Homo sapiens: one gene and its partners. The protein of the gene in region 3 purifies or fractionates together with the protein of the main gene of each other region. This does not show direct contact. Each region holds a gene or a part of one and is shown on either strand. Other genes may lie near its edges. The genes, in order: XPOT, CHP1 and MS4A4A.

Region 1 (3,656 bases), on a different chromosome or scaffold from region 3:
GGCTATATTTGGTGTCTATGGTTGTAAAAAATAACAGCCTCATATATTTGAAAGGGAAAATTTGTATAGCTCTCAATTATCTGAAGTTCCCTAACATAAACTGATAATGCCACTCATCATTGCTTTAAAGATAAGGACAAGAGTGGCAGGTAGGGCATCAATATCAATCTTTAATTTGTGATTCTGTTCATGTTGAAACAAATGATGGCTACACAATTTTTCGAATGAAAATGTTTTGTGGTCTGTGATCTACAGAATAAACCAATAGGTGAACTAGGAATCCTCTCAGTAGTGATTTGTTATTTTGCTTAATTAGTAAGTCAGAGATTCTGAACACAAGTGCCCATGCAGCTACTTAACTCTAAGAGAGAATTGTCATGTAGAAAAACAGGCCTGGTGTTACCAGATATTCTGACTTTTCCAGAAAAGCTGGAAATCTAGATTTTTCTGTGAAATATCTGGATTTTCATTTTTTTTTTTTTTTTTGAGACAAGGTCTTGCTGTATTGCCCAGGCTGAAGTGCAGTGGCACCATCATGGCTCACTGGAGCCTCAACCTCCTGGCCTCAGCTTCCCCAGTAGCTGGGAATACAGAAGCGCGCAATCATGCCTGGCTAATTTTTTAAAAAAATTTTTGTAGAGATGAGGTCTCACTATGTTGCCTAGGCTGGTCTCAAACTCCTGAGCTCAAACGATCCTCTTGCCTTGGACTCCCAAAGTGCTGAGATCATAGGCATGAGCCACTGCGCCCAGCCTTGGATTTTTATGTGTAACCAACAAACTCAGCACTTTTTTTATTTTTGAGACGGAGTCTCGCTGTCACCCAGTCTGGAGTGCAGTGGTGTGATCCCGGCTCACTGCAACCTCCGCCTCCCAGGTTCAAGCAATTCTCGTGCCTCAGTCTCCTGAGTAGCTGGGATTACAGGTGCATGCCACCACATCTGACTAGTTTCTGTATTTTTTGTAGAGACGGGGTTTCACCATGTTGGCCAGGCTGGTTAGTCTCAAACTCCTGACTTCAAGTGATCTACCGGCCTCAGCCTCCCAAAGTGCTCGGATTACAGGCGAGAGCCACCTCACCTGGCCAACTCAGCACTTTTAAAACACTTTGGGGTACATCAAAACGTATCTATAACCTGGATATAACATATACACTGTGAATTTACAACCTGTATTATGGTTTCCTTATGGAAGAAAAACATTAAATTAAAAAAATGACCTCTCCCCGCAAATCTGAGTCAAAACAGTAAGAAAAGCCTTACTTGTATTTAACTTGATGTTCCAGTACTTGAAAGCAGAAAAACTTCACATGATCATCACTGAAAAAGAAAAAAAGAAAATGAGATAAGCAGAATATGAACTGAGGAAAACAAATCAAAGGCAAAATAGTAATGAGTAATACAGCAGAAAAGTTTCTCAAACTAGACCTTTGGCTTGTTTCATACTTACTGGTCTCATTTTATGACATTAAAATCCATTTACTTAAAAAGCTATGAGAACTCTAAATATTACACAATATTTAAAATTTCCATTAAATCTGACAAGCAAACTAACCAAGATATTAAGATGCACCTTGAATACAATGCTTTGTAAGCAGCAAACCATCCCTCTAAATTCCAGATATTAAGATTCCTGGAACAGTCCCTTCATTTTACAATAACAGGTTAGGTGTAAAATTACAAATGGCAGAACAGACAGAGTCTGAGTGAAAGTAAAGATGGTCGTCCAAGTCCTGCTTAAAATTCAACCCCAGTAGTTCTATTGTAGCCAAATCCAAAACAAGCAGGGCCACATGGACTGTCAGTCCAACTTCAAAGTTTCGTACAGGACACTAAATTACAAATATGGTACCCTTGCTTATACAAGATGGGGGCAAAAGTCAACACACCAATTACCCACTTCCAACTGTCTTTCTAGGGGAGTGGCAGAGTTGCAGTTAGCCAGCTATAAACACTGACAAAGATCTTCTAGAGACCAACAATCTGCCAATGAAGTGAGTATAAGAGAGTTCCTATTTCCGTAAAAAGTTAGTTGAATGCTTTAGAAAGATTTCATAGAAAGCCACACTGCAGAAGGAAAAAATCTTGTACATATTTGACATGGCCTATATAACCAGAAGACTTGAGAGGCGGGGACAAATATCTTAAAAATCTATGGATCGTCACTCATTGTACAGAGACCCATGCTAGAAATTGTAGAGGATGGGTTACAGGTGTGACCAACCTACGAATAAAGTGAATGCTAGTTAGTATACAAAGATAAAGACTGTGGTCCAATATTAAAAGATTGGTCACCGAATGATTATATACCTTAAGTTAAAATTAAAAATTAAGATATAGGCCGGGTACGGTGGCTCACGCCTGTAATCCCAGCACTTTGGAAGGCCGAGACGGGCGGATCACAAGGTCAGGAGATCGAGACCATCCTGGCCAACACAGTGAAACCCTGTCTCCACCAAAAAGAAATACAAAAAAATTAGCCGGGCATGGTGATGGGCACCTGTAGTCCCAGCTACTCAGGAGGCTGAGGCAGGAGAATGGCAAGAACCCAGGAGGCGAAGCTTGCAGTGAGCCTAGATTGCGCCACTGCACTTCAGCCTGGGCGACAAAGCGAGACTCCATCTCAAGAAAATAATAATAATAATAATAAAATAAATAAATAATTTTAAAATTAAGATATATATCATTTACAATCACCGTCTTTACCAAAGTTTTAGGAAAGCAGTTATCACCCTCAATCATAAGATAAGGAAGTTTTTACTGCACTTTATTCCAGCTGGGATCTGGTGACAGGTACACAATATATACCAAAGGATGGTTTTACTGAAAAGTTAATTCTGAAATGGCCAAACTGGGTTTACTACTTTTCTCATTTCTACATGGAATGACTATATGTTAATGGCTTTGCAAAAAAAAAAAAAAGTCATAAAATGTTTTTATGAAAACACTTTCCAAATACAGGTAAATTTCACAGTCCTGTCATGTCCACAGAAATTTAAATTGTCATGCAAATTTTGTTTTTAATTACCTGTATGTCCTCTGGGCTAGAGCTTCTGCACACACCTGCCAGGCATCTGGGGAAATTTTTAACTGCTCAAAATAGGCCAGGGCCTATAAGATTGCAAAACAAAAAAATGCATTTAGAATAAACAATCTCAATGCCCTGCTAATATAAACAAAATATTCTGAGAGTTGCAAACCTATAACAAATCAGTAAACTTAATAGAAAAACAGTTAAAACATTAAATGCAGGCTTCCGAATATATGCAACTTGGGGTCATTCCTAAAAATAGGTTAAATAAATATAAATTCCATCAGTTAGATAATCAAACCTGTTTTCTTACAGCAGCAACAACACAAAAATGCCCCGCAGCCTTCATGGGGTTATTATGAAGAATGAGAGCAAGTGCTTTGTCAAGTGCCATACTACTGAGAAATTGCAGAGGATGAGTTAAGGGTGTGATCATTTTATAATATGCAATTATAAAATGGCACGTGAAGGGCACTTTTCCTATTTAATAGCACATCTGCTATTAAAGCGGTGATTATAAAAGATAAAACATACTGTGTACCTTATCTGATCTACTGTTACACAGGAGAGTATTTCAAGTCTTTAATTATATCATGTAAGTTCCCTAAAGAGATTAAAATTGGAGTA
Region 2 (3,216 bases), on a different chromosome or scaffold from region 3:
GGAGGAAGGGGGGAAAACATTACTCAGATAAGAGCTTGGGAGTGTTGTAATCTTCATAACCTTTGTAACTGTTACTGGTTTTCTCCCCCAGGTTTTGGAGAAGGTGGATGTAGAACAGAAAATGAGCATCCGATTTCTTCACTAAAGGAGACCAAACTGTTCCTTGCGGTCTAGTATTTAAGAACTGGAACTTGAAAGTCCTCCTTCTACCAACTCCACCTCCACCCCCTCATTCCCCTTCTCCCAAAGTACTACTGCTGTTGCATGACAACCCCAAATATGTTCTGTCAACACAAACCTGCCTTTGGTGTATAAACAGGGCATTACAGAATGGTACACCCTATATATTTCTGTTCAGTATCCATTCACTAGTTCTTCATTTATAAATATCATCTTCCCCATTCTGCTGCTGAATGCCACACATCCATCCAGTCTGAGAAAGTGAGAGAGGCAATCATGCCAAGAACAAGCCAGCAAAGCTCTTTCACCAGATGTAGACTGTAGCCCTGCTGCCTTCCCTCCAGCGAGTCTGCCAGCATGCTTCTTCATCCTTTTTATATGTTCTTTGCTTCCTACTTCCCTGTCTTCCAACATACTGTTCACTTACTCTGGCAGTCTTTCTGCTTTTCATTAAGCCTCAAAATCTCCTCTGTTCTACTTGGCACCACAAGCTATGTCCTATATATGTATTTCTGACTTGGCAGGATAGTTCAGGGGTCTGGCAGTTTTTATTTACCTTCATTATTAAATGGGCCTCTGGGATGTTGCCTCTTCAGGAGCTTTTTGGTAATCAATACTTCTCTCAGAAGTATGAGACCATCCTCTGCACTCTGCTCTGTCATCAAAGGCTGCTGGGTGGAGATACCCTTTTTGAAAGGTGGCCTTGGTGAGAGGTATGGAGCCAAGTCTTCTAGGTTGCTTGCCCACATCACTCTATCTCTGGCCTCTGATTCTCAACTTTGTACCTGTGTGGCTCCTCTTGTTAGTGCAATGTTGACTGTTGAAAAAGCAGCAGTATGCTTACAGGTTTGCTTAGTTTGGGGACACCGTTACCACCAGAATGGCTGCTCTGACAATATGCCTAGGGACTTTCTCATGGCTTTTATTTAATAAGGAGGCTGGGCACCCTATAAAGCCTCATGCATTCACACCTTTGCAGCATGGTTTATGCCTCAGTGTTATGTGCACTGGAATGTTTTCCACTTCACATTTCCAAGTAGAAATATTAGTGTTACGGAAGTGCCTAATATCCCAGTCCAAATTTTTTTTTTTTTTTTTTTTTTTTTTTGAGACAGAGTCTTGCTCTGTCACCCAGGCTGGAGTGCAGTGGTGCGATCGCTCACTGCAACCTCAGCCTCCTGGATTTAAGTGATTCTCCTGCCTCAGCCTCCCAAGTAGCTGGGATTACAGGTGTGCACCACCATGCCCGGCTAATTTTTTGTATTTTTAGTGGAGACAGGGTTTCACCATGTTGGCCAGGCTGGTCTCGAACTCCTGACCTCGTGATCCGCCTGCCTCAGCCTCCCAAAGTGCTGGGATTACAGGTGTGAGCCACCACGCCTGGCCCCAGTCCAAAATATTTAAAGATTGTTTCCTTAGTGTCTTGAAGTTTTGCACAAAATTCTTTTTTTTGAGATGGAGTCTCACTCTGTCACCCAGGCTGGAGTGCAGTGGCGTGATCTTGGCTCACTGCAACCTCTGCCTCCTGGGTTCAAGCAATTCTCCCACCTCAGCCTCCCAAGTAGCTGGGATTACAGACGTGTGCCACCATACCTGGGTAATTTTTGCATTTTTAGTGGAGAGGGAGTTTCACCATGTTGGCCAGGTTGGTCTTGAACTCCTGACCTCAGGTGATCCTCCTGCCTCGGCCTCCCAAAGTGCTGGGATTACAGGCATGAGCCACCGTGCTCAGCCGCAAAATTCTTTATGAATTTTACACTTGGCAAATGTTAATGACGGAAGCCATAGTCTGCTCCTAATACATGTCCAAAGCATTGACTGTTGTGTCATTAGCTGCCTGGTTACATTAGCTCCCTGGCTTCTTGTTTAGACCACTGCTAATCCCTTAAAAACAAGAGGTCTGGCACTAGTAGCACAACCTAAGGTGGCATTACAGATCTTTGAGCGAGCCACAGCAACTTTTCTGCCAAGTCAGCTTAGTTTAGACTTCAGTGAATCAGGCTATTGCTATCCTAATGTATGTCTCTATGAGTGTATTTAGCCACACATCTGCCCTTGGTTGACTTTCTGACTCATTGCTTGCTTGCTTGTTTCCTTGCTTTGGAAAACTATTGAAGATTGCTAAAAAATACCACTGCAAAGTGATGGAAAAGGGTGGAGAACAGGGGAGTAGCCAGGCTGGATGGCTCAAATATAAATGAATGAGGAATTCTTTATGAAGTATCAGTCAGATTTTATGATTAAGTGATGTAATATAGGAATTATGTAAAAGGGAAGAATGTCTGATACTGATCTATTAGAGAGGTACTTTAGAGGCTTCTTGATTGGCATAAAGTTCCTAAGGTTATAGATTTTCCCCCCTTTTGGCTGTATAGCAAAGTGTTTTAATCCACGGTTGTGCCTTATTGTTCCATTAAAATTGTATCTTCGATCCATCAATAAATACTTGTGGTTGAAACAAAATAACTTTTGTCCATTTTACAAGAATTTTATGTAACTTAGTCCCTTCAAGTTTGAAATCACAGTGTCTCCCTTACTCAAGTTTATGTCTGTACGGTCAGCTGCAGTCTACTCTGCTGCTGCCTGGATATATGAAGTGGAAACATTCATCGAGGGGCCAGCACTTTTGGCTTCGACATGGTTTTGTCAGCCGTGGCCACTTCCCATTCATTCCAGCTAAGACGCAATTTCTATTCTTGACTCCCTGACTCCTTAAATGTAGAAAAAGCCTAAAAATCCAGTATATGTCCATTCCTTAAATTGCCCACCTCCTCATTCATGTGCAGCCTCAGCGGTGACATACTCTGGTTTTACATGGCTTTTTCTTTGCATTTCTTTTTTGAGATGGAGTCTCACTCTTGCCCAGGCTGGAGTGTAATGGCACAGTCTTGGCTCACTGCAACCTCCGCCTCCCAGGTTCAAGCAATTCTCCTGCCTCAGCCTCCTGAGTAGCTGGGATTACAGGCACGTGCCACCACACCTGGCTAATTTTTGTATTTTTGGTAGAGATTGGGGTTTCACCATGTTGGCCAGGCT
Region 3 (3,756 bases):
CTTAGCATAAAGTTAAAATTTTTAATGTTGATAACAAAAGCTCGGCTACTTCAGCACAAATCTATTGTAGTCTTACCTCGAATCTCTCTCCTTTTAATTTTTAAAGCTCCAAGTATATTTGACTTATTTAAGTTGTTCCAAAGACGTAATTTCATTCCTATATTGAGACATCTGCATATATTGAAACCATTTGCAGGAATGTTCCACCCCTCTTGTGACCACCTTGTAAGAACAAAAACAAACCCACCACATCATCTAATCTTCTCACACATGAACAGCATTTTATAGTCTCTATCTTCTCTCAGACACTATTCCCCCACTTCCCCACCATTGCCCACATGTGGATTAGTCAGCCTATGACGGTAAATAAGGGTTTAAGAAATGTGTTATGTTCCTTCTACATTGCAAAAGTCAAAGTTATTTGGAAAGTGACTAAAGATGATTCTTCTTAGTCCATCTAAATGTGTACTTTATTCTTCTTTAATGTAAAAGAACCTCTGCCTCAATCTCTCAGGCACACCTTCAGACTGAGAATTTAGGACATGTTGGGTCTGTCTTATCAAACGCACTGGTGGTTCTCTCTCTGTGTTTAGTGCCTCTCTGGTAAGACTGTAAGCTTCCTCGAGGGCAGAGCAATTATATCAAAATAAAGCTTGTAACTGACTCCTATGCTTTCCCATAATTCTTTGGTAACATAGGTCAGGTTCTGGTCATTCAAGGCTGGTGCTTTGTCATTCTAAGAAACTCTGGCCATAAATTCATATAACTGCCTCCTCTTTTTCCACCACAGAAATCCTTGTGTTAATTATCTACGGCACATGAAGTCCCCAAGAACAAAAACGTGTTTACCATCCAGGGCTTGACTTCTCTATATTCAATTTTTTTTTTAACTGCTGAGAATATTGGATGCATATGAGGGACATTTCTTCCAGGTTGGAGAAGAATTTAAACCTTGGTTTTGCCACATCACCTATATGCATCAGGCTCTTAAGAAATACAATGTCTTTCCCCCACACCCCTGATAAAGAGGTGGGGAAACCCAGACCACCCTTCCCTCTTCTATTGGCCCCAGTCACCTTGTGGATCAGCAGCACCACCAGTCTCTTATTTCCTCATTTTTATGTCACCATCCTCCTCATGGGTCACAATTGCAAGGAGAGAGCATGAGGAGAGTGGTACAAACAGCCATCCGTTTTTCTTGGCAAAGTTGTCAAATAGACTAGAAACCCAAAATGAGGCCTGAATCTGGATGGTTTTAGAAGGATGATGGGGATGCAGAAGTGGTGGCATGGGAAGGGAAAAGGGGGAAAGGCCCGGGCTAGGAACCAAGAATTCTGTTTTTGTTTTTGTTTTTGTTTTTCTCCCAGCCCTTTTGTTAACTTGTGTGATTCTGGGTACATTATTTCCCTTTTATTGGCTTCTTTTACTTCATCTGGGGAAAGATTACAATGGCCACGACCACTTACAAGCTTCTTTCTTATCCTAAGAATGCTAAAAGTCTACAAGGTGTTTTTCATTAGCAGATTTTATCATGAGCAGCCTCAGTTTACTGCCTGGGTGCCCCATGAATAGTGCCAAAGACCACTGGAGAACTAGGTCAGGCCACAGCCCATCTAAATGTACAAGGCTGGGGACCCTGCCTGTGCCCTACTCCATGTACACCAAATTCTGCATGTGATACATCTGTTCTTAAATCCTGAGTTATAAAAATAACCAGTCAGACACAGAGAATAAAGACCACAGAAGAAGGGCATTAACAGTAGATGAGGTAACTAGTCAAAGGTTTAAAATGTTGCTTTCAGTGTTTTGATATCCTGAAGACTCAGGGGACAAAAGTAACTAAACAACCTTATCCAGCCTCCAATGTCAGCCTTTAGGAGGCTTTTCTAACTCCTATCGACTGTAGCAAAAACTGTTCCTCATCCCCCCACCGAATGCACATTTAAAGGTGCACTCAACCCACCCCAACCCTGAATACCAGCTTGGGTCATGGGAAGTGGCCTCATTATTCTTCTCATTCCCCTCCCAGAAATTCTTAACCCAGGAAGTGAAACAAGCCATCAGCCCGAAAGCCTAGGAAGGCAAGTCCCTGGACCTACCTTTCTTCAGGCCTGCAATGTCTGCTGTAGGTCTGATGCATGCAGGGCTCTGGGCAAGTTCCTCAAAGTTCTTTGGTCTAGACCCAATCAACTTCCCCCACTCCACACCTCACTCAGTTTAAATCTGCATTCCTCTTCTAGCAGATGTTTGGAACCTTAAAGGCTGTGCTGAGAATTTCTGAGACGCACAGCTAGTTCCTCTTTTATATCGGAAGCATTAACTGATTTTGTGTTCCCAATATGGGTGTGGATGTCTATTTTGAAATTTGCTGAAAAAGCAGGGGCTGCCTGATACAGTCTTTCCTATGAAAATAATACTGCTAATTACTGTGGATATCAGTGGTAGAGGATTTACTGTATGCCAGACTCTCTTCAAAAGTCGTTATATAAACAAGTAAATGGTATTTTGTAAATACCCCCTTTCACAGGGTCACACATTTCCACAGTACTCTTGTCTTCCTGGAGCACTACTATTACTATTTTATTAGGTTGGTGCAAAAGTAATTGCAGTTTTTGCCATTATTTTATGGCCAAAATCACAATTAACTTTTGCACCAACCTTAATATACACAACTTAAATGTTTTATTTACATGAAATTCCACCTTTAGAGATTCATCAGGAGTGGCCATAAAATGGCAACAAGTTGGTTGTATGGCAATAAAACAACACCTTTCTAAGTGAAGGAAGCAGCTGGTATCATAGAACGAGCTGGTCTTTGACTAAGATCAAACCAATGGCAAACATTTCTTGCATGGCCCTGTTAATCTCCTGAACCTAAGATTCATTTGTAAAATAAAATAATGCCTACTTTACATGGAGGAGGAAAGCAAAGTGGTGTGCAGTTTTCATTCATTCAGCATTTTCTTTAGAAAAACTACTATAAGCCAAGCAGTGTGCCGTGTGCTTCTGAAAAAATGGTAAAAAATAATTTTCACTCAAAGAGTTTATAGACTACTTGGAAAAACAGACCAGTAAATAAATCACTACAATCCATTACTATCAGTTATCTGCAAGGTAAAGTGGCAATACAGATGAGTAAATACATCATTACAACCCATTGTAATCAGTGATCTGCAAGGTAAAGTAGGATATCCTAAGAGAGCTCATAGGAGGATCAATGAACCCAACATTGGGTAGGCAGAGGAGACTTCCTAGATAAGGGGACATCTAATTGGAGACCTGATGAATGAGCAAAAGACACACAAATGGAAAGGGAATGAAGGAAGGTAATATTATTATTTCTATTTTTCAGAAGAAGAAACTGAAACTCAGAGATATTCGTATAGCTGGTATAGATGAGATTGAAATCCAGTTTTACTTAATTCCAAAAACTATGTGGTCTATAATCTGAAATTACGATTCTCAAAATTAAAATAGATTATATTTCAGAAATATTGTCCTGGTTTCAGACAACAGGAATAAATAATAATAAAATCAGAGAATTAGGCTCAAGGTAGAGGCAGTTCTCTAGGGAAGGGATGATGGTTACTGAACTACCTGTGATGCTAGTGAAGTTGGAGAGAATGAATGGATTTGAAAGATGCTTAGGAACAAGAAATGACAGTACTTGTTGGTATAATGGATGTGTAAATCAGGAGAAAAAACAGGAAAGGATGACACTCAGATTCTGGGTTAGGAAACTGAATGAGTGATAGA

The links.
Region 1: the proteins of MS4A4A (region 3) and XPOT purify together in Homo sapiens (affinity purification with mass spectrometry; one large-scale study listed by BioGRID and IntAct). This does not show direct contact.
Region 2: the proteins of MS4A4A (region 3) and CHP1 purify together in Homo sapiens (affinity purification with mass spectrometry; one large-scale study listed by BioGRID and IntAct). This does not show direct contact.

What each region holds. Positions count from the first base shown.
Region 1 is NC_000012.12:64,414,360-64,418,015, reverse strand, and holds part of XPOT (exportin-T), read right to left. Parts: intron 3,110-3,656; coding exon 3,027-3,109; intron 1,319-3,026; coding exon 1,262-1,318; intron 1-1,261. UniProt on the Homo sapiens protein: Mediates the nuclear export of aminoacylated tRNAs. In the nucleus binds to tRNA and to the GTPase Ran in its active GTP-bound form. Docking of this trimeric complex to the nuclear pore complex (NPC) is mediated through binding to nucleoporins.
Region 2 is NC_000015.10:41,279,245-41,282,460, forward strand, and holds the end of CHP1 (calcineurin B homologous protein 1), read left to right. Parts: intron 1-91; coding exon 92-145; 3' UTR 146-2,643; downstream 2,644-3,216. UniProt on the Homo sapiens protein: Calcium-binding protein involved in different processes such as regulation of vesicular trafficking, plasma membrane Na(+)/H(+) exchanger and gene transcription. Involved in the constitutive exocytic membrane traffic.
Region 3 is NC_000011.10:60,279,060-60,282,815, reverse strand, and holds the start of MS4A4A (membrane-spanning 4-domains subfamily A member 4A), read right to left. Parts: upstream 2,151-3,756; 5' UTR 2,141-2,150; coding exon 2,100-2,140; intron 223-2,099; exon of another isoform or gene 77-222; intron 1-76.